2 linked regions of the Homo sapiens genome follow. The protein of the gene in region 2 purifies or fractionates together with the protein of the main gene of each other region. This does not show direct contact. Each region holds a gene or a part of one and is shown on either strand. Other genes may lie near its edges.

Region 1 (3,224 bases), on a different chromosome or scaffold from region 2:
CTTAGCCTCCCAAGTAGGTGGGATTACAGGTACCCACCACCGTACCTGGCAAATTTTTGTATTTTTGTAGAGATGGGGCTTTGCCATGTTGCCCAGGCTGGTCTCAAACTCCTGAGCTCAAGCAATCCACCCGCTTCGGCCTCCCAAAGTGCTGAGATTACACGCATGAGCCACCATGCCCCACCCTCCCATCATTTATTGAGGAATGAGGGATGATGTGGTCCTCCACTGGGAAGACGGGGGCTTTATTTTCCAGCAATGCTGATCTTCTTAGTTACCAGTGCTGCCTTGGCTCTATGATGCTTGGTGTTCTGGCTGCTGGACTCACATTTGCAACTGAGACCCCAGATAGCTTTTGCTGAGGGTTTTGGTAGACACTGCCACCTCATCTTCCAGCTGGATAAAGGCAGGGCCCTTTCTTTGACTCAGTTCCTCATAGAAATTTGGGAAATGATAGGGCTGACATTCCTGTGAAAGATGTGGGAATTAGCCCAGGTCTTCATTGCAGTCAGCCATCTCATTCCCCAGAGAAGAAAGTGCCATGGCTTAATTTAGGTTCTAATGAGTATCTTGTGTTTGAATATCCTAGGGCCAGATGGATGAAGATGTCCAGAAAGTACTGAAGCAAATCCTTACCATGTGTAAAAACCAGTCTCAAAAGAAGTAAAGTGGATTCCTTGGCAGGACACTGCCCCTTGTCATCTGTCTTTGTGTTAGATCCAGAGTTGTCGGCAGCCGCTGCCATTGTTCTCATTCGTGGTATGCACTGTGGCCTAGCGTAGCTTCTTCCCTTTCCAAAGGTTTCTGAGGACTTCTCCCAGGAGAAGACTGCCCGCCTCAGAACTGCTTAGAGACTTCAAACCAGCAGAGGTGAAAGTCCCTGTCATCCCTTCAGATTCCAGAGCTGGGATCAGCCATGCCCAGAGGTCTGGTCCTGATGCTGGCAGGGGGGCCCCCTCCTCCATCCCTGACTGGCTGAGTGGCTTTATCACCACCGAGTGATGTGCTGAGGCCTCCTGCAGTGAATGCTCCTTCCATTCCTGTACTCGGGCAGTGCCATTCAGCACAGGAGAGCTCTTTTTGCCTTTGGCTTTCAATTCCAAAACATGATTTAATTTCTAACTAAATTAGTATGGCACTAGTTATGAAGTATCTGCTTAAAACCCTTCATCATGATATCCTGTGGATTTAAAAACTCTAATTCCATGTTTTCTTCCCATCTGCCTTATATATCTCATCACCCTGCTTATCAATATTCAGTTTGATGAGCACTATTAACTAAAATATGAAACTTAAAAACAAAAGCAAGTTGTCCTTAAAAGTTCTTTTTTTAAGTAAATTGTTGACATACTGCAAATTTTCTATGCAAACTTGCCTCCTGCTGTTATCTGTGAAGCTCAGGAAATCCAAACATTTGTGTTTCAACAAGGGACAGTAAACTGTGTGTTTACAGCCAAAAGAAATGCCTCATAGTTCTTAACCTCAACTTTTGTAGAAGTATTTTTTTCTCTGTAATATTTTTATTGGCTCATAAAGATGTTTTCATATCTGAACTCCTAAATAAGTGAAATTACAGTAGATTATATTAACAAAATACTTTTTAGGTAGCCATGCTTGAGACTTTTTAAAAATATAACTTTTTCCTTAAAGTTTTCAGCTATAGCAAAAGGTAGTTATGTATGCCAGACCTAATATGAGCTGCCACCAACACCCCTAGAACTTTCAGCCATGGTGTCTTCAGAATTGTAGCGCATTTCTGAATCTAGCAAATCCTCCTTTTACCCGTTGAATGTTTTGAATGCCCTGACTCTACCAGCGCCCATAAATGATCTCTAGAAGGACTGTTAGTACCAATCTGTTTTTCAACTTTGAAGCTAAAAACCCTGATATGGTAATATTATGGTGCATAGCAGAGGTCTCGGAAAAAAAATATTTCTGTTCACTTTACTTTCAGGTTAAAAATGTTTCTAACACGCTTGCAACTTCCCTTATGGCATTAATCTTGTTGAGGGAGAGAGACAGAATCCTGGACTCTCCAAAGTATTTAACTGAAAGTAGGGCCTGCTCTGACAGGGCCCATGTCCCACAAGGCTGCTTGGCCTCAGTGGGTGCTTGGCTGTGCTGGATGATATGTTGATCTGTATTGGATAAGGACCAATGACAGCAAAGCAAAAATGGCTTTAAAGCTTGGTGTTACTTTTCTTAAGTTGTTTAATTATAGTTAAGCAATTTCAAAAATGCTCCAAAGAAATGTGAAAGGACCTTTTGTCACAGCACTTCAGAAAATACACAACAGCCCCTTCTGCCCCCGCACAGAAATGCTGCAGAGTATATAAAACTTGAGACATTTTTGTAGGATGCCTGACGAGGTGTAGCCTTTTATCTTGTTTCCGGATGCATATTTATTACGAGTACTCTGGTTAAATATTGAAAAGTTATATGCTGTAGTTTTTAGTATTTTGTCTTTGTAATTTACAGAAGTTATTGGAGAAAATAAACTTGTTTCATTTTGCATTTCTGGTGTTGATTTTTGGTGTATTCAGAAGCATATCTGCGTGGCTTCTGAAGATCAGTTCAATAGCATTTCAGTGTAATAGGTTTTCTAGTCTGTGCTATGCTCAGCTGGTATGAGTTGTCCGCACTGTCTCACACAAAGTCTCACATCATTTCCTTTTCCCAGCTCTTGGATTCGCCCTGAGCTCTGCCCTGAGTATCAGCCGCTTTGGGGCAGTTGAATCACAGTTGCCTTTAATTCACAATTGCCTCTCATTTAATCTGCAGTCTGTTTAACTGTTTGGAAGCCTCCGCTGGATTTTTTTTCCCTCTTGCTTCTTGCTTTTTTTGAAAAAGTAATACATACATATGTAAAAAAAAAATCCAGATACATTTTCCTGCCCCATTACAAAGACAATTCAATTAATTCCTGACAAAACTCTTGTCAGGTGAATTCTGGCAAGGTTAAAATCATAATTAAAATTGTTGCAGGTTATAATCATAATCAAAATTACATGAAATAGGTACAGCTACTTAAGAAGTTAGCATTGTTTATCATACTCCAATGTAACAAGGCCATTTCCCTTCACTTACAACATGATTCCACCTCTACTTCAGTTTCATTGTGCCTTCCTACTATACCCTGAAACTTTATTTCAAAGAAAGCATGTGTGTGATACTCAACTGAACCTTTTATTTCAACTGTGGCCAACCAGACAACTCAGAAGGTG
Region 2 (3,831 bases):
CTGAGATTGCATCACTGCACTCCATCCTGGGCTACAGAGTGAGACTTTGTCTCAAAACAAACAAACAAACAAAAAACTGGTGAATTTTTGTTTGCATCTTTCTAGCTTTTAAGATCTTTCTGAACCCCAGATGACTGTTAGATTGGTCTCCTCAGTGTTCTGGGTCCTCACCAACTGCTCCTGTGTAGCACTCCTTTCACCTAGAATTCCTTTCATTCATTCACTTTCATATGTTTACCATGCAGTTGTAGTAAGTAGAGGGGACTTATGCAAAGTCTCTGCCATCTAAAAACTCAATGTCTAATGGGGGAGATAAACAAGGAAGGGGCTGAGATAAGTAGATATAAATAGAGGGCACTATGGGAATACATGGTAATGAGGTGGGAAGTATAAATGAGCAGTGAAGGCTTCCCAGAGAAAGTACTGTCCAATCAGTGACAAGACAGACGAGGAGAAGTGAGCCAGATGAGAGATGGGTAACATGAGATGGGTGAGACGGATCCCTCTAGAGAGAATCTCATTCTGCCATTAAAATTCATCCTAAAGTTCCACTTCAAGTCTTGTCTTCCCATCAGGCGTTTTCACTGGTCTCTTGATTGACATCATAGGAAAGGTATAGTTTTTCTCTCTCTATCTTTTCCTCACTGATGAAGGTCCCAGGGCTCTCCTCACTTTTGGTGGCCAGCTGATAGGAAGATATAGCCTTGGGAGAGGAGACACAGTCCCTTTAGGTTTGGGCATAATTCACGTGCTTCAGTCTGGTTCATCAGATATTACGGGCATAAATCCATAGTGGTACCTTATTTTCTGTTTGCTTGTTTATGCATTTCTTTATAAACCTCTCAGGGGGAATATCACAGATTTGGGGTGGGATTTTGTCATTCCTGGGTGTCTTAGTCAAATGCCATACAACAGCACCCCTTAAACTGCAGTCAGACATGTAACATTTCCCATTATTTGAAGCTGTTTTTGAGTGAGAAATCCAGAAGTAAAAGGTTCGTTAATCCTCTAGTGCCTTCTACTTTCCTTAAAGTCTATATTGTCATGCTCCTTCTCATTAAGCACAGCTGCTAGGCAGCTGCTGGCAGCAGTCACAAGAGTTCAAGGCTAGCCTGTGGCCTAACACAGAAAACAGTTGTTCATTAAACATTCACAGCATGGTGGTAAATGCAGAGCACAGGTTTTCAGGGGATGACTGTAGAAAAAAACAAAAGCGCAGGTGAAGAAGGGGAGTAGAGCACTTTTTCAAGCCTCTTCTCAGGTGGCAGATGACTGATTCTAAAAAGGGAGTTCCCATTTTATTTCCAGAAAGTCCAAACAAAAGAAACAACACAGGAGGCCTCATTTTTCTCATTAGGAACATGAAATCCATTTCACTGTGCTTCAAGACATTCAGTTATCCTCTGCTCAAAGCTGAGGAGGTGGGTTTTGCTTTTCTAAAGTGAATTGTTATACTTTGCCATTTGGTATAGAATCACCCAACGCAGTGAAAACAGGAAGTTTATGATGTAGAGGATGCTTCACAGATCTGCTAAAGAGTACTTCCCTGTGACAGTCAGCTGCATGGGCTCATTAGATTCTGGAATTACAGGATTTTTTGTTAGAAGTTGGTGGTGCTCACTCATTTTGACATTGTAAACACATGGTTGAAAATTCCACTATTTTGGAGATGTCCTAATAATTATGTATCAGTTAATTTGTTCAGGAAAATTGGTCCTGCAGGGTAGTCTATTATCAGCCTGTTCAGAAAACTTACTGTTTCCTTCTCTCTAATTTAAGATGTAAAAGTTAGATAAAGCACATCTATAAGTTTAAAGTAACACATCTGCCAAAATATGCCCCAGGAGCAAGAGTTTTGCAAGCTTCTCTAGCTTGCAAAGTATAAGCAATGACAACTCAGAAAAATATCAACTGTTGGCTGGGATCACCTTGATGTGTGCCCTACACATTTTTAGTATAGGTGTCTCTTAAGCATTAGTGCCTTTATTTATATAGCTATTGCAATATGACTACTTATTTTCTCAGTGATACCTATTGGTGGCATTGAATTTTGAAATAATTTCCATCATTCACTTTTCTCCATTTCCTGAAATAATTAGGCTTACTGAATTATCAGGTCTCCCAAGTATATCCAGGTTCATGTAGTCTGTAAGGGTCTTTCCCATCATTTCCACATTTTCAAAATTACACCAAATTAACAAGGAAGGGGTTGAGATAAGTAGATATAAATAGGGGGCACTATAGGAATACACGGTAGTGAAGTGGGAGGTATGAATGAGCAGTGAAGGCTTCCCAGAGAAATTACTGTCCAATCAGTGACCAGACAACCAAAGAGAAGTGAGCCACATGAGAGGTGGGTAACAGGAGGTGGGTGAGACGGATCCCTCTAGAGAGACTCTCATTCTGCCATTCAAATTCATCCTACAGGTCCAGTTCAAGTCTTGTCTTCCCACCAGGCTTTTTCACTGATCTCTTGATTTTGCAAGACAAGCTCAAATAGAGAAACTCCATGAAATTGACTTTCTCATCCTTCCATCCCTCTATCCATATTTAATCTTTTAATATTCTGAAAACAATTGGCAATGTATTTCCTCTTCTCTACGGTATTTATTATCACTTTGTTCTTTGCAGTATAGTTTTTGTGTTCATGTCTTATTTATATGATAGACTTAGGCTTCCTTAAGGATTGACATTATGTTAAATGTATCTTTATATTATTCATAATACTTTAAAGTCTTCTCCATCTACTAAATTTTCAATTAAAATTTGTTGACTCAGCTGGGCTCAGTGGCTTACACCTGTAATCCCAGCACTTTGGGAGGCCAAGATGGGTGGATCATCTGAGGTTAGGAGTTCAAGACCAGCCTGATCAACATAGTGAAACCCCGTCTCTTCTAAAAAATACAATAAATTAGCTGGACGTGGTGGTGTGTGCCTGTAATCCCACCTATTTGGGAGGCTGAGGCACAAGAATTGCTTGAACCCGGGAGGCAGAGTTTGCAGTGAGCCAAGATCGTGCCACTGCACTCAAGCCTGGGTGACAAAGTGAGACTCCATCTCAAAAAAAAAGAAATATATATATATACACACACACATATATGTATATATATACACACACACACATATGTGTGTGTGTATATATATACACACATACACATATATGTGTGTGTGTGTATATATATACACACAGACATATATATACACGCACACACACACATATATATATATATATATATATATATATATAGTTTACTAAATGACTGACAGTAAAAGAAAAAGTAGAATGGTCTTTTTAGAGGCAAATAATAAGGCAAGCAACCAGTGGAGGTCACTGTCATTCTTTTTAAATATATCAATTCTCTTTTTTAGTTTTTGCTAGTGTAAGTACAATGCCTCTCAATTGTTTTTTCATGAACATAGAGTCACTAAATAGACATCAGATGAAAACATGTAAATTGCCTTTCTTGACGGGTTTGCTCCTCAGTAGTTTCCATGGCACATTCCAGGGAATTCTGGAGAGACTGCAGCTGATTCAGGGTTTCCTTCAATAAAAATCTAGTTACGAATTGTTCCAAATTGGAGGCTTCTTGGTAGTCCTAAGGGTGACAAAACAAATGCAATTAGAAGTATGGTAGAAAAAAATACCCAGGATTTTTTTTTTTTCTTTTACCATGTACCCATCAATCCCAGATTGATCCTAGAGAGAGAGGGTGGAGAGAAGGGAAAAGATCTGTCGAGCCCTGGAGGCTACAGCATCACTCTCATCCACCCACCAGGAGATGAATAAAAAAGCTGCAGAAATGACTGGAATATCTTGCCTCCCAATATACC

The links.
Region 1: the proteins of NECAB1 (region 2) and RAI14 purify together in Homo sapiens (affinity purification with mass spectrometry; one large-scale study listed by BioGRID and IntAct). This does not show direct contact.

Annotation. Positions count from the first base shown.
Region 1 is NC_000005.10:34,830,099-34,833,322, forward strand, and holds the end of RAI14 (ankycorbin), read left to right. Parts: intron 1-589; coding exon 590-667; 3' UTR 668-2,514; downstream 2,515-3,224. UniProt on the Homo sapiens protein: Plays a role in actin regulation at the ectoplasmic specialization, a type of cell junction specific to testis. Important for establishment of sperm polarity and normal spermatid adhesion.
Region 2 is NC_000008.11:90,917,257-90,921,087, reverse strand, and holds part of NECAB1 (N-terminal EF-hand calcium-binding protein 1), read right to left. Parts: intron 3,597-3,831; coding exon 3,460-3,596; intron 1-3,459.